7 linked regions of the Homo sapiens genome follow. The protein of the gene in region 1 purifies or fractionates together with the protein of each later gene. This does not show direct contact. Each region holds a gene or a part of one and is shown in the gene's direction. Other genes may lie near its edges.

Region 1 (3,500 bases):
CCAAAGCTGTGGTTTAGGCCACAGCCTTTATCGAGATTTTCTTGATAAAGGCAAGGTGAAGAAAGGCGACCAGCTTAGGACTTGCAGTTGGAGGAATTTTGGTGGGTTTCAGGCTTAAGGCAGAAAAATCTTGCCTCCTGGGGTGCAGGCCAGGCTGGTGGAGGAAGGATGGCTCCAGAGGGGTTAGCTGGCATATCAGAGACACACTTGGGGCTGCTTTTTTCTCTAGTACTTGCCTAACCCTGAAGGCAGTGTCTCCGCAGCCAGAAAGGTCTTTTAAGATGTCTAGACATCGTAATGTACAGAAACTTCAGAAACATTTACAGTGTAGGGCTGCTGACTCCTTTCTCCCCAGTGTGTGTAGCATTGTCTTAGGAAACTACTTAAAAAGCTTTTGATTCTTATAACAGCTTTGAGAATGAGTTTATTATTTTTTCCATTTTGTCAGTGAGGAAAGTGAGCCTATGAAAGATGAAAAATAAAACAGAACTTCTCAAGGCCACACGACTGGGAAGAGGCAGAACAAGGACTTCACCCGAGTCGTCTGTCTTTTTTTCTGAATGGTCTGTCTAGAAGTGTGTCAATGTTATGATCCTCTCAAAGAACCACCTTTGGTTTCATTGATCTCCCTTTTGCTTTGGTTTTCTAGTTCATTGATTTCTGCTTGGGCCTTTATTATTTCCTTTCTTCTATTTATTTTCAGTTAACTTTATCCTTTTTTTTTTTTTTTTTCAAAAAAAATTTTTTTTTTTTGAGACGGAGTTTCGCTCTTGTCCCCCAGGTTGGAGTGCAATGGTGTGATCTCAGCTCACTGCAACCTCCGCCTCCCGGGTTCAAGTGATTCTCCTGCCTCAGCCTCCCAAGTAGCTGGGATTACAGGCGTATGCCACCATGCCTGGCTAATTTTTTGTATTTTTAGTGGAGACGGGGTTTCACCATGTTGGCCAGGCTGGTCTCGAACTCCTGAACTCAGGTGATCCACCCGCCTCAGCCTCCCAAAGTGCTGGGATTACAGGCGTGAGCCACTGTGCCCGGCCTTTTTTTTCAGATTCTTAAGGTGGAAGCCTGGATCTTTGATTTGAGACCTTTCTTCTTTTCTAATATGGTTGTTTAAATGCTGTAAATTTCACTCCTAGCATTACTTTAGCTGCATCCCACAGTTTTTATATATATGCTGTTCTTTAATTTTTATTCGGTTCTAAATACTTTGTGATTTCCATTTTGACTTCTCCTTTGACCTGTGGATTATTTAGAAGTGGATTATATGATTTCTTCTGTGAACCATGGGAGTTATTTAGTTTCCAAATAGTTGGGGGTTTCCCAATTAGTACTTTGCCATTGATTTCTAATTTAGTTCCATTGTGATAAGAAAACGTACTTAGTGATTTAAATCTGTTTTCCTTTATTGAGAGTTGTATTATGGCCCTGAATATGGTCTATCTTAGTGAATATTCTGTGTGTGCTTGAGAACATGTTTTCTGCCATTATTGGGTGGAATGTTCTGTAAATGTCAGTTAGGTCTGGTTGGTTATCTCAGGCTACTATATTCTTGCTGATTTTCTTTCTACTTGTTCTGTTGATTATTAAAAGAAGAATGTTGAAATAACTTCAGCTATAACCATGACTTTGTCTATTTTCCTTTCTTACTTACCAGTTATTGTTTCATATATTTTGAAGCTCTGTTTTTTAGTATAAAAACATATAGAATTATAATTTTCTCTTGGAATGATACTTTTTTTTCTGGGCAATATTCTCTTCCCTGAAATCTACTTTGATACTAAGAGAGCTACTCCAGCTTTCATTAGTGTTAGCATATCTTTTCCCATCTTTTTACTTTTTTTTTTTTGAGACAGAATCTCTCTCTGTTGCCCAGGCTGGAGTGCAATGGCGTGATCTTGGCTCACTGCAACCTCCACCTCCCAGGTTCAAGCAATTGTTGTGCCTCAGCCTCCCAAGTAGCTGGAATTACAGGCTTGCACCACCAAGCCCAGCTAATTTTTGTGTTTTTAGTAGCAATGAGGTTTCACCATGTTGGCCAGCCTGGTCTCAAATTCTTGGCCTCAAGTGATCCACCTGCCTTGGCCTCCCAAAGTGCTGGGACACCACACCCAGCCTCCTATCTTTTTACTTTTAACGTATTTAATTGATTTGTGTTCTTGTGTTTAATGGTATGTTTTATGGGCAGCATATAGATGGGATTTGTTTTTAATCTCATAATCTCTGCCTTTTAATTGGAATCTTATGCCATTTATATTTAATGTGATTATTGGTCTGTTTGACTTTAGATCTACCATGTTGCTGTTTGTTTCCTGTTTGTCTCATTTGTTCTTTGTTCCCTTTTCCCCCTCCTTCTACCTCTATTGGATTATTTTTTATGATTCCATTTTACATCCTTTATTGGCTGATTAGCTGTAACGGCTATATTTAGTTTTTGTTTGTTTGTTTCTAAGTGACTGCTTTAAGGTTTGTGGTAAACATCTTTATCTTGCTACAGTATACATTAAACTTCAACTTCATGTGATATAAGAACCTTATAACAGGCCAGGCGCAGTGGCTCACACCTATAATCCTAGCACTTTGGGAGGCTGAGGGAGGCAGATTGTCTGAGCTCAGGAGTCTAAGACCAGCCTGGGCAACATGGCGAAACCCCATCTCTACCAAAAATACAAAAAATTAGCCAGGCATGGTGGTGCATGCCTGTAATCCCAGCTACTGGGGAGGCTGAGGTGGGAGGATTGCTTGAACCTGGAAGGCAGAGATTGCAGTGAGCCAAGATCCGTCACTGAAGCTGCAAACTCCTGGGCTCAAGTAATTCTCCTGCCTCAGCCTCCTGAGTAGCTTGGTCTACAGGCATGCACCACCACATCTGGCTAATTTTTTAAATTTTTTTATAGAAACGGGCTATGTTGCTCAGGCTGATCAAAGGTTCTTGGCCTCAAGTGATGCTCCTGCCTCAGCCAACCAAAGTGCTGAGATTGCAGATGTGAGCCACCATTCCCTGCAGGAACAGTCTTAGATTTATCCACGTAGTCACTGTTTCTGGTGCTCTTAATTCCTTTGTACAAATCCAGATTTCCATCTGGTATAATTTTCCTTCTACCTGAAGGATGTTATTTTTTCTTCTGTTGCAGGCCTGTTGGTGATTAACTCTTTCAGCATTTTTTTTTTTTTATTTGACAGGATTCACTCTGTCACTCAGGCTGGAATGCAGTGGTACAATTATAGTTCACTGCAGCCTTGAACTCCTAGACCCAAGCAATCCTCAGCCTCCTGAGTGGCTGGGACTATAGGCATGCATCACCACGCCTGGATAATTTTTTATTTTTACTTTTTGTAGAGATGGTGTCTTCCTACGTTGCCCAGGCTGGTCTCTTACTCCTGGGCTCAAGGGATCCTCCCACTTTGGCTTCCCAAATGTTGGGATTACAGGTGTGAGCCACTACTCCTGGTCTTCTTTCAACTTTCGACTTTTGTATGTCTGAAAGTCTATTTTGCCTTCA
Region 2 (3,422 bases), on another chromosome or scaffold:
TAATTCTGAGAGCTTTTCTAAAATTCCCCTCACAGAGCATTCCTTTTTTTGTTGGGGGGTGGGGGTGGTTAGAAGTTTAATGAAAAGTGGGTTCACAAAACAAGAGGGAAAAAGTAAAACAGCTGTTAAATCATGTGCTTAATACTATTTCACCAAGGAGTGGTCGAAAAGAATCTTGTGCCCATAGATGCTACCACCATTAGGTTGATTCAAAACATAGTTGTTAAGGAATAGTTGAGTGAACAGAGAATTCATTAGTTATTGAATAGTTTTTCCTTTCTCAATGCAGTAATAGTAACATTTAAAATTTTAAATAACCAATAGTTTTATAAGTTGGCAAAGGAAATGATCTTAAATATTTCCTTTTGGGTTTGTTTGGTTGGTTGGTTGGTTCGTTTTTTTTTTTTGTTTTTTTTGTTTTGCTTTCTCTGATGACATATCTTTTATTTCCTATTACAGCAAAATTCATACCAACCAACAAATAAAGGAAGATACAAAGTCTTATAGACATCCGGAAAAAAGATTTTTACCTGTGCTGGTCTATGATGTATGTGGCAGTTGCTGTCTGCAGTTTACAATGTATTGTAAATGAAGATTTTTTAAATTCTATCTTGCTGATTTTTTTTAAATATAAGAAACTGGTACTTGGTAAAGAAATCTGTCCGTAAGTACCCCCACAATCAGTCAAACTATATTTAAAGCCAGCCTGTTTTCAGAGTATGATGTCCTTTAATGTAAACTCAAATATCAATATTTTAAATGTCCGGATAATATTCTAGAGGTTTAAAAAATGGAAATATTTGAACTTTCTATTGAAGACAATAAAGTACACAAGTCGTTAAGGGGCTATTCACTTTATCCTGTACTTTCAATGAAATTGTGATCATTTCCTAAGAAAAGGTAAAATTCACTATCATATTTTGTGTCCCCACCTTGATGTTACATGACTCTGGAACAATATGAACTGGATTTAAGAATGTTATAATAGAAGTCTTACAAAATGGGTTGAGAGTTTTTGTTTCAATTTTTATCATCATAAATGGGCAAAAAGTAGTTGGACTAATTTCGGTTTTTATACAAGTAAAGATTTAATAGTATAAGGATTTTTTTGCATTTCTTTACACTGAGTGTAAAACTCTACAAAGAGTTATAGTATTTACTACTTTGAGGTTTCCCTCACAACTTCTGGCTCCATACCTAGCCCCTCTTTTATAATCTTCCTTAAAAGAAAGAGTGTAGCCTATAAATACTAAATATGATACCTTTTCCTTCTAGAAAGTGTTTATTTATATATCTATACATGTTGTATGTACAAATATCCTACTACTTTTAATCTGATTTTTCTTCAGGATTATTGAGTAGGTTGTGAATTTTCTTTCTTAAAAATTGTAAAACATAATGGTACCCAAGTTTTAAACTTAGATGTGCTTCATCTTAGTGAAATTTAATTCACAAGGAATCATAAATTGTGTTTTTGAGGCTGGGCGCAGTGACTCACACCTGTATCCCAGCAATTTGGGAGGCCGAGGTGGGCAGATCACTTGAGGTCAGGAGTTCAAGACTAGCCTGGTCAACATGGTGAAACCCTGTCTCTACTAAAAATACAAAAATTAGTCGGCATGGTGGTGGGTGGCTGTAATCCCAGCTACTCAGGAGGCTGAGGCAGAAGAATCTGAGCCAAGATAACACCATTGCACTCCAGCCTGGGCGACAGAGTGAGACTATCTCAAAAATAAATAAATAAATAAATAAATAGTATTTTTGAGCCTTCAAGATACAGTTCCTGAATATTCTAATTTAAATTGTTATAATTGGATTACCTAATATTCTTTTCAAGACTCCTGATGTATTAACTTCATGTTATTGTCACTTTTCAAAAAAGGAATTTTTTTCAGGAGTTAAATAAAGTCAGTCTTTTATATCCAAGGGTTTCAAACCCACAGATTAAACCAACCACAGATCAAAAATAGAAAAAAAAAAAAAAAGAAAAAAAGAATGTAAAATTTTAAAAATACAGTTTAACAGCTGTAAAAGTTTTACTATAACATTTACATTGTGTTAGGTATTTTAAGTAATTTAAAGGTTACAGTATACAGGCGGTTAAAGTATACAGGAGGATGTGCATCGGTTATATGCATATAGCAAGCCATTTCATATAAGAGGCTTGAACATCCATGGATTTTGGTATAGAGGAGGGGTTTAAGGGGTGTCCTGCAATCAGTCCCCCTCTCATACCAAAGGATGACTGTATATTTCTTAAATGAAGAGACTTTCATTCTTTAAATATTATTGACTTACAGTTTAAAAATAAATAAATAAAAGCATACTATAGTTGTAAAAACAAATAATTTTAATAGTATATTCAGTGGCTGAAGTGATAGGGAGTATTAATCATTATTTCTTCAGTATAAAGTTATTCTTCCTGAAAAAGTAAGATATACCTGGGAAATATTCTTGGATCCTTCACACATCCACTTAATTTCTTGAAGGAAGAAAACAGACAAAAGACATGTAACAACAGAAACAAATAAACCACTTACTGTAAAATTTCAGAAATTGTGGGCTCATTCCCTCCCTCTAGTTTATTTATTTGCTCATCTTTATCACCTAATGGTAGTTTGTTTTCTTTGGTAGAGTATATGGCAGTCCCACATCGATGATAATTGGTGCTCCCTTCATCCAACTGGATCACTTTGAGATTCAGTTTTACATCATTTTAGCATTTTGTTTGTATATCAGTTGTGATGAGCCACTGATAAAATTTTGTTCTAAAATGAAACATATTACTTTGTTAGTACATTTTTTAGTGTCACACTGACTTTTAAAATTTGAATGATATATAGACTTTGTTTTTTTAATGCAATATGAATATTTGCTCATGTTTTCTAAATTCCTTATAAAATAAAATTAATTCGAATTCAATCTGCACTTTCTTAAAATTATCTTTCCTCAATGCTTTTTCTTTCTTCTGTTTCTCTAATTTTGTTTATGTTGGTGAGAGAAGTATTATACTCTCTATTTTTATTTAAAAAATTCTAGCAACTTATTACCCAAAATATTTATAATTCTGTTCCAAAAATGTCTTCCTGAAGAAGGCTCTTAAGTCTTTTATGTTCATTGTATTTAGCATAAGAGAAACATAGGTGAAATAATAGGTTCATTTACCAGTTGGGGTTTTGCCACAGTGACACTCTTACAAAATGGATATGTAGGCTGGGTGCGGTGGCTCATGCCTGTAATCCCAGCACTTTGGGAGGCTGAGGCAGGCAGATCACCTGGGGTCAGGAGCTCAGGACCAGTCTGACCAACACGGAGAGACCCAGTCTCTACTAAAAATACAAAATTAGCCAGGTGTGGTGGCACATGCCTGTAATCCCAGCTACTCGGGAGGCTGAGGCAGGCGAATCGCTTGAACCCGGGAG
Region 3 (4,041 bases), on another chromosome or scaffold:
ATATAAATATATATTATTATCTTAATATATATAATATATATTATTATCTTAATATATATAATATATTATTATCTTAATATATATTATTATCTTAATATATAATTATATAATAATATACAATATATAATATATATTATATATATAATTGTATATATAATATAATATATAATATATATTATAATATTAATATCATAATATTATATATGATATATAAATATAATAATATATTAATATATATTAAGATAATAATATTAATATATTAATTATATAATTAATATATTATATATAATATAAGATAATTATAATATATAATTGATAATATTGATATATTAATTAATATTATATCTCAATATATAGATATATTATAATTATATTATATAATTAATGTATTAATTAATATTATTATCTTAATATATATTAATATAATATTATTATATTTATATTATATATTATATATTTATATATTAATATAATATTATTATATTTATATTATATATTATATATTTATATATTAATATATAATGTTATATATTATATAATATATAATATTATATATTAATATATAATATTATATATTATATAATATATAAAATTATTATATATTAATATATAATGTTATATATTATATAATATATAAAATATTATATATTATATCATATTATATATATAATTTCATTTAAACTTGTATCTTAGAAATTCTTATCAGTAAGCGTACGTGATTTCATTTATTTATTATTCTTTTGGATACTGGACATAATCAGGTGGCCCCAATTCTTTACACTGGCAGCAAAGATAAGCAAATTCTTCCAGCAGGCCAAATTTGACCCCGCACTTGATGAGCGTGGTGGACACAGAGGGTTTTTTAATAGCATAGGAATGTTTTTTGCTTCCCACCGGACCCACTAGCCTCTAGTGCCACCGATTAATATTACCTTCCTTGAATCAGGAGGAAACCATTTGTGACTTCTCATATGTAAGATCTTCTAAGGGCAGAAACGCAATTGTCTTTGTATTCACTTCCCCGCCCACCCACACCCCTTCCATGGAGAGCCTGCAGCCAAGCTCAAGCTTTCAAAAAGGCGTGAGCTAATTCAATCATCCTTGCCGCTTTTTTGCTCCTCCAGGCTGTAGAGGGCGACAAAAACCGCGGAGGCGCATTGGGGTGGGGGGTGTCTACTGAAGGCCGCTCCCGACGTGCGCGTCTTTACGTAGACGTCGGGGGCGCAGCCGCGCTGTGCGCGGTGACTGGCGGCTGCACTGGCGGCAGCTGGAGGTGTAATAGTGCGGGTAGTGGGTTTGGAGAAGTTCCGAGGCGGCGGTGGCGCCGGTCAGGACAAGGATAGCGGAACCGGGCCCTGGGCTTGTCGCTCACCATGCCGACAGTAGAGGAGCTTTACCGCAATTATGGCATCCTGGCCGATGCCACGGAGCAAGTGGGCCAGGTGAGTTGAGTCCCCGGGCGGCCTGCAGGGCCTGGCGCTCCGCGGCCTTTCGAAAGCGCTTCCCGCCGCACTCCCCGGGCCGAGCGGGGGCTGCGGCTTCATCCTCCCGGGGCCTCCTAGCCTCCTCAGGCCGTCTCGTCGGGGTGGGCCTCTCTGGGAGTGTAGACTCTGGTTTCACCAGGGAGACCGCGGTCCCCAGGGTTCCAGGCTTCCTTGCCTCCCTTGCCCAGCCTTTTCTCACCGTGGCGTAACCTAACTCAGCCCGTTCAGGCTCACGTTAATTCTTCTCACGGAGCTTTTCTCTACAGGATTCTCTTAAGCCTTTCTCCTTTTCGGTGGAGCTCAGTGCTTCCAAGATTAGATCGGGAGTTTTCTTCATGAGGTCAAGATGTGTTTTTTTTGGGGGGGAGGCAAAATTCTGCTACTAATTGAAGAAGAGTGTTTAGGAGACAGAAGTTTGTGAGAAACAGAAGAGGGACTCTTTGGTCCAGACTTTGATGAGAGCTCACGGTTTCATTTATTCAGTGCATTTTTTTGAGTGCCGAGCGCTGGAGATACAGATGGAAAGGTCCGCGCTCTCCCAGAATGTACAGTTAGGAGGGAGTGTAGTAAGAAAGATAGGCATTGTGAGGCCCGGCTTGGTGGCTCACGCCTGTAATCCGAGCACTTTGGGAGGCCGAGGCGGGCGGATCACGAGGTCAGGAGTTCGAGACCAGCCTGACCCACATGGTGAAACCCTGTCTCTACTAAAAATACAAAAATTAGCCGGGCGTGGTGACACGCGCTTGTAATCCTAGCTACTCAGGAGGCTGAGGTGGGAGGATTGCTTGAACCCGGGAGGCAGAGGTTGCGGTGAGCCGAGATCGCTTCACTGCACTCCAGCCTGGGAGACAAAGCAAGACCCCGTCTCAAAAAAAAAAAAAAAGGTTTTTTTTAAAAATTTATTCTTTTTAATGAAACATGTTTGAAGAAAATAAAACAGGGCTGGGCGAAGGAGAGTGTGAGTGCGCAGCTCTGAATGGAGTTGTCTGGAAGAGCTCTCTTAACGATGCTTGCCCCCGATACACAGTTTCTCAGCAGTGTTGAATTATCCATACAAGTCATTTGTTCCCTGTATGAGTTTTCAAGTACTGGAGTACATTGAACTTGATAAGTGGTTGGGTATGTGTGTTCTTGGGAAAAGAACCAGGCTCTCCTGGAGGTAACCTTGATCATTGTTTTAGAAATCCCACACCATAGCTTTTCAGCGCTTAGAACTTTGTGATTTTTCTGCTTACGCATCCCTTCTTGGAGAAAGTGGAAGATTCTAGTCTATTAACAGTCGTGGGAGTACCTTTCCCGTCCCCTTTTCTTAACATAATTCAAATAGGACTTTTCTGAGCTGAACGAAAAAAAAAAAATTTCATGTTGGAGATTTATTGTAGCTTAATCTAGAATTAAGAATATACCAGTTTGAAATAGCAAATGATTTTTTTTCCTTCATTCCCTGTCAGTAGGGAATTTCACTTTTATCAGTAAGAAATGTATACGGATGTTCTGCTGTACATGTGGATAGAGTGTGTAGGTCGGTTGTGAAGGAGGAATATTCTGTTCATTAAGAAGGTAAAAACTGCCAGGCACGGTGGCTCACGCCTGTAATCCCAATTCTTTAAGGGGCGTGGATGGGCAGATCAGTTGAGATCAGGAGTTCGAGACCAGCCTGGCCAACATGGTGAACCCCCATCTCTACTAAAAATACAAAAATTAGCCAGGCGTGGTGGCATGCGCCTGAAGTCCCAGCTATTTGGGAGGCTGAGGCAGGACAATTGCTTGAACCCGGAGGGTGGAGGTTCCTGTGAGCTGATATCGGGCCACTGCACTCCAGCCTGGGCAACAGAGCAAGACTCCATCTCAAACAAAAAATTAAAAAAAAAAAAAGATACAAACTATGTGTGGTCAATCAGTTTGAATTTGTTGTTCCTAAAAAGAACTAGTAGTGAAGATATTCTCAATCGTATAATTTATCTGTGACTTAGTTGGGTAACTTTGTAGCAAATTGTTCTACCTACGTTAGACTTTGTTGCATATCAGTAGGGGGATAGGGTGAAAGCTACAACAGTGGTTGTGTCAGGAATCCTTCTAAGAAACCTTTGAAACCGTATACATAATGCTGTCCATCCCCTACTCTAATTTTGAGAGTTGCTTGCATTTCCTTCTCATGTCATCTTTATAAAAACCAGATTGAATTGAGAGTTCTCCCCAAGGGGTCAAAATGTCTTTCACAGCAAAAATCTACTCTTTATTTAGTAAGGGTACTTTAGAGACAAGTTTGTGAAAAATGAAAAAGGATACCTTTGTCTACACTTTAATGAGGACTCCATGCTTTATTCCGTACATTTCACCTACCATGTACCACACACCCGGCTGGACACTGAAATTTAACACAATTCTCTGTAGGTTATGGGTGATCAATGCGTTCTGTATTGACAACTGTCAAGCAACTATTTAAACAGTATCTCTGCATAATGAGATGTAGTGGTTAGCTCAGGCAGCTCAAATATTGTGAATTGTAGGAAAACCGAAGATAATGCCTACTAATTCTGCTCTGTTGGGTTATACT
Region 4 (3,190 bases), on another chromosome or scaffold:
ATTTGTAAAATATATCACACAGTTTTTGGGAAGGATGTATCTGCATTAGCCTCCTATGTGCAATTTAAACAATGTATATTTTGGTACAATTTGTGTATTTGGTATAATTTGTTATTTAAATAACAGATCATGGAATTTTTGTTCATTTGGTTATGTCAAATTAATGTCTACCACTATCTCCTGGAGGATAAGTATTTTCCACATTACCAAAACTTACGGGGATTGTTTATTATATTTGTACAGATGTGTGTTTACATGCATAGATGGGTTAAAAGTTTATCTTCTGAGGGGCAGTTAGTACTTACAGAAATTTATAAACAGATTGGATCAAGATAGGAAATTGGAGATTAATTTGATTAACTAGCCTGGCTTATAATTTCTAGTTCTTCCCGTCTTCATTAATAAAAAAGTAAAAATTCCTTGTGAAGATAAGAAAATTATTTCTTTTCTTGTCCTAAATTTTAGGAGGATATGATGGTTACCGCCCTTCATTCTCTAACACTCCAAACAGTGGTTATACACAGTCTCAGTTCAGTGCTCCCCGGGATTACTCTGGCTATCAACGGGTAGGTAAAGTAGTTCTAAAGTGTAAACCTGAACTAAATATACCAATGAAAGTGACTTAGTGTTGTTGCTTAATGAACCTAAGTAACTAATTTGGCGTTAACTTTGTGGTGTCCAAGACACTCTGTTGAAACAAAAGCTTTTAGCACTCAACATCAGTACTCCTTTAGTAAAGCCTGTTAAAGACAGTGATTTCCAAGAGCAGAGAAATATATTTCACTGAATGTTCTTTGAGAATAGTAGAAGTACAACAATTACAGAACAAGGTGTAGCTGTGATAAACTGATACTGAAGTGTCTAAAAGATTAAGGAAGAATTCTGTATTGAGTGTTAGACTGAAAGAATAGATGGGTAAGCATTTTTTAAAAAGTACCTTTTCAATACTAACTAGCTTGTCTTTTAGGATGGATATCAGCAGAATTTCAAGCGAGGCTCTGGGCAGAGTGGACCACGGGGAGCCCCACGAGGTAATATTTTGTGGTGGTGATCCTAGCTCCTAAGTGGAGCTTCTGTTCTGGCCTTGGAAGAGCTGTTAATAGTCTGCATGTTAGGAATACATTTATCCTTTCCAGACTTGTTGCTAGGGATTAAATGAAATGCTCTGTTTCTAAAACTTAATCTTGGACCCAAATTTTAATTTTTGAATGATTTAATTTTCCCTGTTACTATATAAACTGTCTTGAAAACTAGAACATATTCTCTTCTCAGAAAAAGTGTTTTTCCAACTGAAAATTATTTTTCAGGTCCTAAAACCTGCTAAATGTTTTTAGGAAGTACTTACTGAAACATTTTTGTAAGACATTTTTGGAATGAGATTGAACATTTATATAAATTTATTATTCCTCTTTCATTTTTTTGAAACATGCCTATTATATTTTAGGGCCAGACACCCTTTAATGGCCGGATAAGCCATAGTTAACATTTAGAGAACCATTTAGAAGTGATAGAACTAATGGAATTTGCAATGCCTTTTGGACCTCTATTAGTGATATAAATATCAAGTTATTTCTGACTTTTAAACAAAACTCCCAAATTCCTAACTTATTGAGCTATACTTAAAAAAAATTACAGGTTTAGAGAGTTTTTTGTTTTTCTTTTACTGTTGGAAAACTACTTCCCATTTTGGCAGGAAGTTAACCTATTTAACAATTAGAGCTAGCATTTCATGTAGTCTGAAATTCTAAATGGTTCTCTGATTTGAGGGAGGTTAAACATCAAACAGGTTTCCTCTATTGGCCATAACATGTATAAAATGTGTGTTAAGGAGGAATTACAACGTACTTTGATTTGAATACTAGTAGAAACTGGCCAGGAAAAAGGTACATTTTTCTAAAAATTAATGGATCACTTGGGAATTACTGACTTGACTAGAAGTATCAAAGGATGTTTGCATGTGAATGTGGGTTATGTTCTTTCCCACCTTGTAGCATATTCGATGAAAGTTGAGTTAACTGATAGCTAAAAATCTGTTTTAACAGCATGTAAAAAGTTATTTTATCTGTTAAAAGTCATTATACAGTTTTGAATGTTATGTAGTTTCTTTTTAACAGTTTAGGTAATAAGGTCTGTTTTCATTCTGGTGCTTTTATTAATTTTGATAGTATGATGTTACTTACTACTGAAATGTAAGCTAGAGTGTACACTAGAATGTAAGCTCCATGAGAGCAGGTACCTTGTCTGTCTTCTCTGCTGTATCTATTCCCAACGCTTGATGATGGTGCCTGGCACATAGTAGGCACTCAATAAATATTTGTTGAATGAATGAATGAATGAGTACTGGTGGAATACTCCATTAGCTTTACTCTTCTTTTAGCTAAGAGAACATGAGCAAATTTGCGCATGACAACTTCCAGGACAGGGGAAACTTGAACACTGAAGAATTGACCTCTTAAGCCTAATAATGTGGTGACAGGCTGCCCACATGCTTCTTGACTTCAGATGAAAATCTGCTTGAAGGCAAAACAAATAATATTTGAAAGAAAAATCAAATGCCATTTTTGTCTTCTAGGTCGTGGAGGGCCCCCAAGACCCAACAGAGGGATGCCGCAAATGAACACTCAGCAAGTGAATTAATCTGATTCACAGGATTATGTTTAATCGCCAAAAACACACTGGCCAGTGTACCATAATATGTTACCAGAAGAGTTATTATCTATTTGTTCTCCCTTTCAGGAAACTTATTGTAAAGGGACTGTTTTCATCCCATAAAGACAGGACTACAATTGTCAGCTTTCTATTACCTGGATATGGAAGGAAACTATTTTTACTCTGCATGTTCTGTCCTAAGCGTCATCTTGAGCCTTGCACATGATACTCAGATTCCTCACCCTTGCTTAGGAGTAAAACAATATACTTTACAGGGTGATAATAATCTCCATAGTTATTTGAAGTGGCTTGAAAAAGGCAAGATTGACTTTTATGACATTGGATAAAATCTACAAATCAGCCCTCGAGTTATTCAATGATAACTGACAAACTAAATTATTTCCCTAGAAAGGAAGATGAAAGGAGTGGAGTGTGGTTTGGCAGAACAACTGCATTTCACAGCTTTTCCAGTTAAATTGGAGCACTGAACGTTCAGATGCATACCAAATTATGCATGGGTCCTAATCACACATATAAGGCT
Region 5 (3,500 bases), about 16 Mb from region 1:
AAGGATCGCTTTTCCAACTTGCTAAGTCTTGAGAGCCAGTAAGCAACCCTCACCTGCCCAAGGTCTCACTGCCTGCCTGTTTGTGGCAGGAGTTGATTTGCTGCTTTTGTAATATGAACCTTTTGATTATTTAATAGGGCTGATTCATAGTCATGTTTGTTCTTTTCACTCCTTCCCTCTAGCTTTGGGGGAAGAGTGAGTTACTCCTGTTGTTAAAAGTTTTGATTGTGTCTGGTCTTCTCTGGAAATCCTATGACTTTTTTCTGTCATTTTGCATCTTCAGTTTTTCAGACTTTACTGGTTTTTCCCCTTTAGCATATAAACATGCCTATGTTTCTTTAAAAAATAAAATTTCTGTAGGTAATGCTTCACTTTCTCCTTCCTATCATTGATAAACAGCCTACAAAGTACTCTTGACTCCTCTTGACCTAGTCTTCATCTTCTACTACTTACTTGCCAGGTACTCCTCAACCCTGTCCCTACTGCTCCATTGAAACTGCTTTCACTGATGACTCCTGGTTGCCTATACAACAGAAGAATTTTAGTTCTTTTTGTTTTGTTTTTTTGAGACAGAGTCTCGCACTCTCGCCCAGGCTGGAGTGTAGTAGCCGGATCTTGGCTCACCGCAAGCTCTACCTCCCAGGTTCATGCCTTTCTCCTGCCTCAGCCTCCTGAGTAGCCGGAACTACAGGTGCCCGCCACCACGTCCGGCTAATTTTTTGTATTTTTAGTAGAGATGGGGTTTCACCGTGTTAGCCAGGATGGTCTTGATCTCCTGACCTTGTGATCCGCCTGCCTTGGCCTCCCAAAGTGCTGGGATTACAGGCGTGAGCCACCGTGCCTGGCACATTTTAGTTCTTAACTTACCTAACTTCTCTTTAGTTTTCTGCCTATAGAGCTTCTTTCTCCTCACCCGTGTTCCTCCTTGTCTCCCCTTCCTTCTTTCCCCCTCTTCTTTCTTTCCCTTCCCCAATCCCTGTTCCATCTGAAGTTTCCATGTAAGCTTCTCTTTTTCTGCCCATTCCTAAATAGTGATATATGTTAAGAATTGTCTTACTGGGCCGGATGTGGTGGCTCACGCCTGTAATCCTAGCACTTTGGGAGGCCGAGGCAGGTGGATCACGAGGCCAGGAGATCGAGACCATCCTGGCTAACATGGTGAAACCCCGTCTCTACTAAAAATACAAAAAATTAGCCGGGCCTGGTGGCAGGTGCCTGTAGTCCCAGCTACTGGGGAGGCTGAGGCAGGAGAATGGTGTGAACCCGGGAGGCAGAGCTTGCAGTGAGCCGAGATTGTGCCACTGCACTCCAGCCTGGGCGACAGAGTGAGACTCCGTCTCAAAAAATAAAAATAAAAAAAGAATTGTCTTACCAGCTGGGCGCAGTGGATCACGAGGTCAGGAGTTTGAGACCAGCCTGGCCAACATGGTGAAACCTGTCTCTACTAAAAATACAAAAATTAGCTGGGCACGGTGGTGCGTGCTTGTAATCCCAGCTACTCGGGAGGCTGAGGCAGGAGAATTGCTTGAACTCAGGAGGCGGAGGTTGCAGTGAGCCAAGATCATGCCATTGCCCTCCAGCTCTGGGCGACAGAGCAAGACTCCGTCTTGGGGAGAAAAGAAAGAATTGTCTTACTTCTTTTCTCACTCTGCATGGTCTCTCTGCTAGCTTATTTACATCAGTAACCTCAAATGCAAATGGCTTACATCAAATCTATAGCTCACTCCGGACCCCTCTCTGCAGTTACTGCCCCTGCTTGGCATCTCTACTCAGCTCTCTCATAGATACTGAACTCACCTTTTGCCTAATTTTGCAAACCTGGCTCTTTTAGGTTTCCATCTCCATTAGTGGCTCCACAGTTCACCCAGTCTTTAAAGCCAGAAACTTCTGAAGTTATTCTAGACTCTTCTTCCTTAGCTTCCACACCAATTACTGGTCACACAATCCTAATTGATCTTTCCTCAGATATCTAAATAAATAACTCAGATCCATCCCCCGTTTCTCCTTTCCCACAGGTGCTTTCTTAGTTCAGAATTTTGTCGCTTTATACCTGCGTTGCTGCAACAGCCTTCTACTTTCCTTGCCTCTACCATGAGTATCTCTCATTCTGTCTTTCAAAAACACTGATCTGAAAATTTCCCTTCTGTGTAAAATTAACGATTCTTTGTAGCTGGCAGAATACAGTTTTGTATGGTACGTCGTTAGCATAGCCTTCTAAGCTGTTCATCTTGGCCCTACCTGTCTTTCTGAACATGTGTCCTGCAAATTTCCCAAATGTGCTACTGAACTCTAGCTGCACTGAACTATTTCTTGTTCTCTGTGGTAACACTTAACAGATCCTTCCATCTGAAATGCCCTTCTTTAATGCCTCTTTGATCTAATGCCTCTTGAGGTTTCAAAATTTAACATGTCATCTCTCAGAACACTTCTATGCCTTTGCTCCCACTCATGGACCACCAGTGAATGCACTCTGTATAGTACGTCTGTTAGAACGCATCATGTTGTTTTCAGCTGCCTCAGACTGCACTGTCTACTCCTTGAGAACAGGGACTGTATCTTTCATGTATGAATGCCTAGCACATCATATACCACCTGACCTTCTCAGCAAGCTTTCAGTAAACCATTGAAAGTTTTCCTGCTAGGAGATTGTGTGATTCTTAAAATCCACCTGAACGTAAATGTCTTTCCACTATCCTTTCTTTGCCTTCTCATCCTTATGGCTTATTAGCTCCTTGTTATACATTGTATACACTAGGAAAAATGAGATTAAAATTGAGCCCATCCTTTTTGTTGCTTGGGAACACCTCTTGTAAAGATAGCTTATAGATTAGTTTAAAAACGTCAGATGCTGAAATTTTCTTGCTTGTAAAGATTCTTACTAAATTTCATCACACTGGAATTACGTTGATTCCTTGATTGAAGGAATCCCCTTATGGGATTCCGAAAGACAGCAGGAGATGAAGTTCAGGTAAATTAGTACTTACTAAATACATACCTTAGTCATTCTCACTGTTAGAGAAGGAAGTCCAAAATGAGTAAAGACAGTTTCTATCTGGAGTTAAGGGTCTAAGTAGAGATTGATGTAGTGTAATTCAAGTTTAATACTAAGCAGCCTGGGTGCCGTGGCTCACACCTGTAATCCCAGCACTTCGGGAGGCCAAGGTGGTTGGATTGATTGAGGTCGGGAGTACAAGACCAGCCTGCCTAACATAACGAAACCCCATCTCTACTAAAAATACAAAAAATTAGCTGAGCCTGGTGGCACACGCCTGTAATCCCAGCTACTCGGGAGGCTGAGACAGGATAATCACTTGAACCATGGAGGCAGAGGTTGCAGTGAGCTAAGATTGTACCACTGCACTCCAGCCTGGGAGGCAGAGTGAAACTCTGTCTCCCAAAAAAACAAACAGACAAACAAAAACCTTAAAACTAAGCAAACAACTAAGTGCTGTGTATAATAGCAGTTGAACAAAACCTATGAAGTATATATAGACAAGGGG
Region 6 (3,500 bases), on another chromosome or scaffold:
GTTATAGCAAATTCCTTTCCCTTGGTGTTGATTATGGAATTAGACTGAAGGTAGAGAACAAACATTTTAGCTTCTTTACCTAGGCATATAGCAAAAGCAGAAGCTTTTGTGTTTGCCTGGGCAATTTTTGAGCGGTAGAAATAATGGGCTGGGTGCTGTGGCTCGTGCTTGTAATCCTTGCACTGTGGGAGGCCAAAGTGGGTGGATGACCTGAGGTCAGGAGTTTGAGACCAGCCTGAGCAACATGGCGAAACCCCACCTCTACTAAAAATACAAAAATTAGCTGGGTGTGGTGGTGTGCACCTGTAATGCCAGCCACTTGGGAGACTGAGGCAGGAGAATCGCTTGGACCTGGGAGGCAGAGGTTCCAGTGAGCTGAGGTTGCGCCACTGCACTCCAGCCTGGGCGACAGAGCGAGACTCGTCTCACAAAAAAAGAAAGAAATAATGGTTGAGTAACCTATAAAAATGTGTTGAGTCTCAGAACTATTTGTATTTTATTATTTTGAGACAGTCTTGCTCTGTTCCCCAGGCTGGAGTGGAGTGGCGCAATCATTGCTCACTGCAGCCTTGAAGTCCTGAGCTCAAGAGATCCTCCTGCCGCAGCTTCCTGAGTAGCTGGGACTTACAGGCCTGTAGCACTTAACACCCAGCTAATTTTTTAATTTTATTTTTGAGACAGTCTCGCTCTGTCGCCCTGGCCGGAGTGAAGTAGCGCCATCTCCGCTCACTGCAACCTCTGCCTCCTGGATTCAAACGATTCTCCTGCCTCAGTCTCCCATGTATCTGGGACTACAGACATGCGCCACCACACCCAGCTAATTTTTGTACTTTTAGTAGAGATGGGGTTTCACCATGTTGGCCAGGCTGGTCTCGATCTCCTGACCTCAGGTGATCTGCCTGCTTTGGCCTCCCGAAGTACTGGGATTACAGGCGTGAGCTACCACGCCCGGCCTGAATTTTACTAGAAATGAGGTCTTGCTTTGTTGACCAGCCTCGTCTGGAATTCCTGAGCTCAAGCAGTCCTCCTACCTCAGCCTCCCAAAGTGGTGGGATTACAGGTGTGAGCATCCGTGCCCGGCCAGAGCAATTTTTTTATAGTTCCGATGATATGTTTTGGTTGTGTGTGAGAATGCACTTTAATAGAATTACAGCTGTTATTCTAGTGTGATTTAGCAAATGGAGGATAAAATCAATCATAGAAAGTTTGGGACTTGGTGAAATCTTTATAGCGTTACTCTTTGACTTTTTTTTCTTTGTATCATGTTACGGTTTGTGGTGAATAGGTCACTACGCAGTGGAACGTATGGTTTATTAGTAAACACTGACAATGAGATGAGGCTGTTCCTGGGGGTGTCACAGTAGATTGAAGGCTGGAAAAGATAGGAAAATAAGGTGGGTATTCAGAGAGAGAAGATAATGAATAGGGAGTGTCAGAATGCCAGCATCATTTGCCTCAAATGCCACTTGTTACGTGCTTCCACTCTTTTATTCTCTCTGAGGACATGGTCAAAGTGTCAGTGTGAATAAGGTAGTTAACTTAAAAGGTGTATTAGGGCTGGGCATGGTGGCTCAAGCCTGTAATCCCAGCACTTTGGGAGGCTCAGGTAGGCAGATCACATGAGGTCAGGAGTTCGAGACCAGCCTGGCTAACATCTTAAAACCCCGTTTCTTCTAAAAATACAAAAAATTAGCCGGGCGTGGTAGTGAGCGCCTGTAATCCCAGCTACTCGGGAGACTGAAGCAGGAGATCCGCCCGAACCCGGGAGGCAGAGGTTGCAGTGAGCTGAGATCGTGCCATTGCACTCCATCTTGGGCAATGAGTGAAACTCTGTCTCAAAAAAATATATATATATTAGATGCTGCTGGGAGCAGTGGCTTGCGCCTATAATCCCAGTGCTTTGAGAGGCCGAGGTGAGAGGATCACGCCTGAGTTGGAGATCAGGCCACAAGTTGGAGATCAGCCTGGACAACATAGTGAGACCTTATCTCTACAAAAAGAAAAAAAAAATTAACCACATGTGGTGGTGTACTTGTCCTAGCTACGTGGGAGGCCGAGGCAGGAGGATCCATTGAGCCTGTGAGTTTGAGGTTGCAATGAGCTATAGTCACACTACTGCACACTAGTCCAGGTGACAAAGTGAAACCCTCTTTAAGAAAAAGAAGTTTTTGCAGGGGGGCATTTTATTTTAACATCATTTGGTGGGATGTGGGTGACATTAAGGTTTTTTTTTTGTTTTTTTTTTGAGACGAAATTTTGCTGTGTTGCCCAGGCTGGAGTGCAATGGCGCGATCTCGGCTCACTGCAGCATCCGCCTCCCGGGTTCAAGTGATTCTCCTGCCTCAGCCTCCGGAGTAGCTGAGATTACAGACACCATGCCCGGCTAGTTTTTTGTTTTTCTTTTTTGAGATGGAGTTTCGTTCTTGTTGCCTAGGCTAGAGTGCAATGGCACAATCTTGGCTCACCACAACCTCCACCTCCTGGATTCAAGCGATTTTCCTGCCTCAGTCTCCCCAGTAGCTGGGGTTACAGACATGCGTCACCATGCCCGGCTAATTTTTGTATTTTTAGTAGAGACAGGGCTTCTCCATTTTGGCCAGGCTGGTCTCGAACTCCTGACCTCAGGTGATCCACCCGCCTCAGCCTCCCAAAGTGCTGGGTTTACAGGCGTGAGCCATGTTGCCTGGCCAAGGATTTTTAAAGAAGAGGCAAAAGCAAAACCTTTTTAAAATTATATTTAAAAATATATATTATGTTTTTTTGGAGACAGAGTTTAATTCTTGTTGCCCAGGCTTGGAGTGCAGTGGCATCATCTTGGCTCACTGCAACCTCCGCCTCCCGGGTTCAAGCGATTCTCCTGCCTCAGCCTCCGGAGTAGCTGGGATTACAGGTGTGTGCCACCACGCCCAGCTAAGTTTTGTATTTTTAGTAGAGATGGGGTTTCTTCATGTTGGTCAGACTGATCTCGAACTGCTGACCTCCGGTGATCTGCCCACCTTGGCCTCCCAAAGTGCTGGGATTACCATTGTGAGCCACTATGCCCGGTCTGTAGTGTATAATTATGAAAGGCAGGGTCCTTTGTAAGAAACAGATAAGCAAAGAAAGGGCATTGTATTATAAGGACACAGGAGTCAAGAACCCTAACATGGAAATGTATTTCACCCAGAAAGGGAATTGAATTAGTCTTATGAATCTTTTTTCTACTTTTGTCTGCATGCCTGCTTCCATTCTTTTCTTTCTGCCGACTTACTGTGCTACTTGTTCCAAAATGAGTAGCTAACTTTTTGAGTGTTTACTATGTGCCCACATACTGTGCTAAATGTTTTATGCCAGTTACTTCATTTAAGCATCCTGTCACATCTATGAGGTGGATATTATTCTTACTTTATGGGTAAGGATACTATAGTTTTAAGAGAGATAGATGTTTTATGACAGTCTGGGATGTGATTAAGCTCTTAACCACTGTGTTACCTCTTAACCACCATGTTGCCTCCTATGGT
Region 7 (3,121 bases), on another chromosome or scaffold:
ATGCAAGCTGAGCATGTAAACAGCTCGTTTGTTTGCTCTCCTAAGATCTTGATTCCTTTTTCTTTGGGAAGTCTGTTAGCGCTGTCATTACTCCACACATTGGCATTTGGACCCACTTTTAACACACTTTATTTTGGAGAGACTTCAGATAGTGGACAAACTAAAGAATTTAAAATGAAACTCAAACAATTCCCAGAACATTATTCTATAAGCAGCTTGGAGACGATAGTTTGAAAAGTAATTCAGTGTCCTGTTTCTTCCTCAGGCTTCAGGGATGACTTCTTAGGGGGCAGGGGAGGTAGTCGCCCAGGCGACCGGCGAACAGGCCCCCCCATGGGCAGCCGCTTCAGAGATGGCCCTCCCCTCCGTGGATCCAACATGGATTTCAGAGAACCCACAGAAGGTACGGGCTCATGTGTCAGTGGAGGGCATCTTGTCCTGATGGGATGATCATGGCCGGTTCACACCCCGTGGGGACTTGGCGTTCTACGGCACACAGAGTTGTCGGCATAGATCCCCACGTTCTCTGGAATAGCAAGTTCACCTTGGTCATTAGAGCATCTGCTGTTGGGGTAGCAGGCCAGGTGAATTTTAGAAAGTGGGCTGGTTTGCTGACAGCAACATCAGCATGGTCGTTTTGCTGGATATGGAATGGGATCCACACTCTGACAAACTCTGCTTTTTCTCCCCCAGAGGAAAGAGCACAGAGACCACGACTCCAGCTTAAACCTCGAACAGTCGCGACGCCCCTCAATCAAGTAGCCAATCCCAACTCTGCTATCTTCGGGGGTGCCAGGCCTAGAGAGGAAGTCGTTCAAAAGGAGCAAGAATGAGCCTGCGGTTGGGAGGGAATGGGGCGTGGGGGGTTAGAGCAGGACCACAGCCTGGTGAGTCCCCGGGCAGCCGTCCTGCAGCCGCCACTCCTGCGCCTGCCATTGGCCTCCTCACAGCGGAAACACAGCTTGTGAGTGCATGTCAGCTGTTAACAAGTGGTTTTTAGTACATTCTGGGCTTTGCTGTATCTATCTAGTGCCTGTTTGTGCGTTTTTTTCTTTCTTCCGCTGCTTCCCCATTTTCCTTCTGTCCTTTTTCTCCTGCTCCTTGTTTTCCCAGCAGCACATGGGGTTCCTCGGAGGAGCAGAGGTGGCCGCCGTGGGGGGGCGTTTGGGCTGCGGTGCTGCGTCATTTTTCCTTTGCTTTCTCTTTACTTTAGACACTGGCCCAACTCCAGGCGTTTCCTTTCATTCCCTCAGTGCTTCTCTTCTGACCTGCATGTTGAGTTCTGTATTGCTGGGGCTTCCAACAAAAACCAGAGTCACTGACAGAGGGAACAGCAGAGACCTTGTTGGTATTCAGCTGTGATGGATATAGAGAATCAGAGGCACCTTGTTTTCACAACTAGGATAAAAATATCTGCAGGGTCCTTTCCATTCCTATTTAGAGGGAGTCCTGGCTCCATGACCCCCTCCCGAGTGGACTGTCCAAGCAGATAGGCTCACACGAGAAACAGTGAGGCTGAAAGGGGGGGCTATGGAAGAGCGGTAGGGAGTCCACGGAGAAGATGCAGTGAATGCTTGCATGCATTCACACGTGTGTGTGTCCCAGCTAGTTCACTCCTTTCGCCGTGCGTGGTGGAGGCTGGCCTCTCTGGCTGGGTGCAGTGAATGGCCAGCGGGTTTCTTTTCTGCTGGGCCAAGGCGCTTTGGGGGTGGAGGGGGTGGTGCTGGTGCTGCACTGGGCTGACTGCGGCGCTGACGCAGCGTTTCCCCCCATCCCTGTTGCCTGTGTGTTGTGTGGATCTGTTCCTAGTATAGGCAACATAATGAGATACTGTGCTTCCCACCTCCCCTTCAGTTCAGAGCCAAAATGGGTCTAGAATCTGGCACTTTACTCATTTCCTTTGATAAATTGTACTATGCAGAGCTGTCAGGAACCTTCAGATAGCAGTAGAGGACTGCAGCTGTCTAGGTCTGCGGCCACATCTTGGGGACACACTGGACTGTTCCCATGTGCAGGGTTCAGCAGTTATGTGGGAGTGCTAGGGGTTAGGCTTTTGAGCTTGAACGCCTGCGTGTGAACAGATGAAAAATCCTTCAGTACCCAAGTCCCAGTCTGTCCTATGGGGAGCAGTTTGGGGGCGGCCGGCAGCAGGAGCCTGGGAAAGAGGCCCTCGCCAGGTGATGGCAGGGCCAGGGTGGCCTGGGGCACCCAGCGGAATGTGCTTAGTATTTGGTCACCAGCCGTCATCCTGGGCTTTTCCTACTGTGTCTTGTTACAAGGCCTCAGCAATCCACAGAACTCTCTCTCCTTCCTTCCACCTGTCAGCTTCTCTGCTTCTGAGATAAGAACCATTTGTGTAACACCAACACTTAACTTCAGAAAGACATGCATTATGTGGTGTAATCAAACCCGATGCTTTCAGATGACCTACTTACATCTTCAATGTGGATAAGATAAAGAACAAAACACATGCATCTAAACTGCTGGGCAATCCAGTTGACTTTTAAATGTAAGAATGGAATTCCAAACACTTAACACATTCAGCTATATGACAGAAAGTAAATCTATGGATATGGTATTTTGTGAATGATCTTTTAAATAAAAGAAAACCTTACGTAATATTTAATGCTTGCCTTTATTTTTGAGTTCTTTTTAGCTGCTCATGGAATGTAACAATTTTAAATTTGGGAAGCACCATTGAAATGGAAGAGTCTTCCTGTCATTTTAATTCTGGGATGAGTGAAGTTATTTTAAAAGCTGGTGATGATTAGAAATAGGATGCCAATTTTTTCCCCTCACTTGCTAAAAATGTCCTTTTCCCAACCAGGCAGAAACCTTGAAAGTCTGGCTGTTTTTGGTTAGGTAAAGGAACATTTTTTTCCCAAGATGGAAGAAATCAAGCATTTACACAACATGTGGCTTCTTTTAACAACTGCTTGTAAACGAAATTCTAGGTGCCCCTCATGGCTGGGAGGGCTGCTGCTTCCTGACAGCAGATCCTGACTCTGGGGAGGTGCTGCTATAGGTTGGTATTGGATAGTGTTAAAATTGACTTAGGCAGACAAAGAAGAGCTGAGTGGGCAAGGTGCGGGGCATGAATGCGTGTTTGGCAAAGTCCTGG

What was found.
Region 2: the proteins of SLC26A11 (region 1) and DDX46 purify together in Homo sapiens (affinity purification with mass spectrometry; one large-scale study listed by BioGRID and IntAct). This does not show direct contact.
Region 3: the proteins of SLC26A11 (region 1) and API5 purify together in Homo sapiens (affinity purification with mass spectrometry; one large-scale study listed by BioGRID and IntAct). This does not show direct contact.
Region 4: the proteins of SLC26A11 (region 1) and CAPRIN1 purify together in Homo sapiens (affinity purification with mass spectrometry; one large-scale study listed by BioGRID and IntAct). This does not show direct contact.
Region 5: the proteins of SLC26A11 (region 1) and DDX42 purify together in Homo sapiens (affinity purification with mass spectrometry; one large-scale study listed by BioGRID and IntAct). This does not show direct contact.
Region 6: the proteins of SLC26A11 (region 1) and MLLT10 purify together in Homo sapiens (affinity purification with mass spectrometry; one large-scale study listed by BioGRID and IntAct). This does not show direct contact.
Region 7: the proteins of SLC26A11 (region 1) and EIF4H purify together in Homo sapiens (affinity purification with mass spectrometry; one large-scale study listed by BioGRID and IntAct). This does not show direct contact.

The regions. Positions count from the first base shown.
Region 1 is NC_000017.11:80,230,427-80,233,926, forward strand, and holds part of SLC26A11 (sodium-independent sulfate anion transporter), read left to right. Parts: intron 1-3,500. UniProt on the Homo sapiens protein: Sodium-independent anion exchanger mediating bicarbonate, chloride, sulfate and oxalate transport.
Region 2 is NC_000005.10:134,828,200-134,831,621, forward strand, and holds the end of DDX46 (probable ATP-dependent RNA helicase DDX46), read left to right. Parts: intron 1-459; coding exon 460-507; 3' UTR 508-2,922; downstream 2,923-3,422. UniProt on the Homo sapiens protein: Component of the 17S U2 SnRNP complex of the spliceosome, a large ribonucleoprotein complex that removes introns from transcribed pre-mRNAs.
Region 3 is NC_000011.10:43,310,755-43,314,795, forward strand, and holds the start of API5 (apoptosis inhibitor 5), read left to right. Parts: upstream 1-1,241; 5' UTR 1,242-1,373; coding exon 1,374-1,442; intron 1,443-4,041. UniProt on the Homo sapiens protein: Antiapoptotic factor that may have a role in protein assembly. Negatively regulates ACIN1. By binding to ACIN1, it suppresses ACIN1 cleavage from CASP3 and ACIN1-mediated DNA fragmentation. Also known to efficiently suppress E2F1-induced apoptosis.
Region 4 is NC_000011.10:34,096,731-34,099,920, forward strand, and holds part of CAPRIN1 (caprin-1), read left to right. Parts: intron 1-465; coding exon 466-566; intron 567-967; coding exon 968-1,031; coding exon of another isoform or gene 1,032-1,051; exon of another isoform or gene 1,052-2,330; intron 2,331-2,572; coding exon 2,573-2,637; 3' UTR 2,638-3,190. UniProt on the Homo sapiens protein: mRNA-binding protein that acts as a regulator of mRNAs transport, translation and/or stability, and which is involved in neurogenesis, synaptic plasticity in neurons and cell proliferation and migration in multiple cell types.
Region 5 is NC_000017.11:63,780,670-63,784,169, forward strand, and holds part of DDX42 (ATP-dependent RNA helicase DDX42), read left to right. Parts: intron 1-3,500. UniProt on the Homo sapiens protein: ATP-dependent RNA helicase that binds to partially double-stranded RNAs (dsRNAs) in order to unwind RNA secondary structures. Unwinding is promoted in the presence of single-strand binding proteins.
Region 6 is NC_000010.11:21,540,732-21,544,231, forward strand, and holds part of MLLT10 (protein AF-10), read left to right. Parts: intron 1-3,500. UniProt on the Homo sapiens protein: Probably involved in transcriptional regulation. In vitro or as fusion protein with KMT2A/MLL1 has transactivation activity. Binds to cruciform DNA.
Region 7 is NC_000007.14:74,194,476-74,197,596, forward strand, and holds the end of EIF4H (eukaryotic translation initiation factor 4H), read left to right. Parts: intron 1-265; coding exon 266-403; intron 404-693; coding exon 694-833; 3' UTR 834-2,621; downstream 2,622-3,121. UniProt on the Homo sapiens protein: Stimulates the RNA helicase activity of EIF4A in the translation initiation complex. Binds weakly mRNA.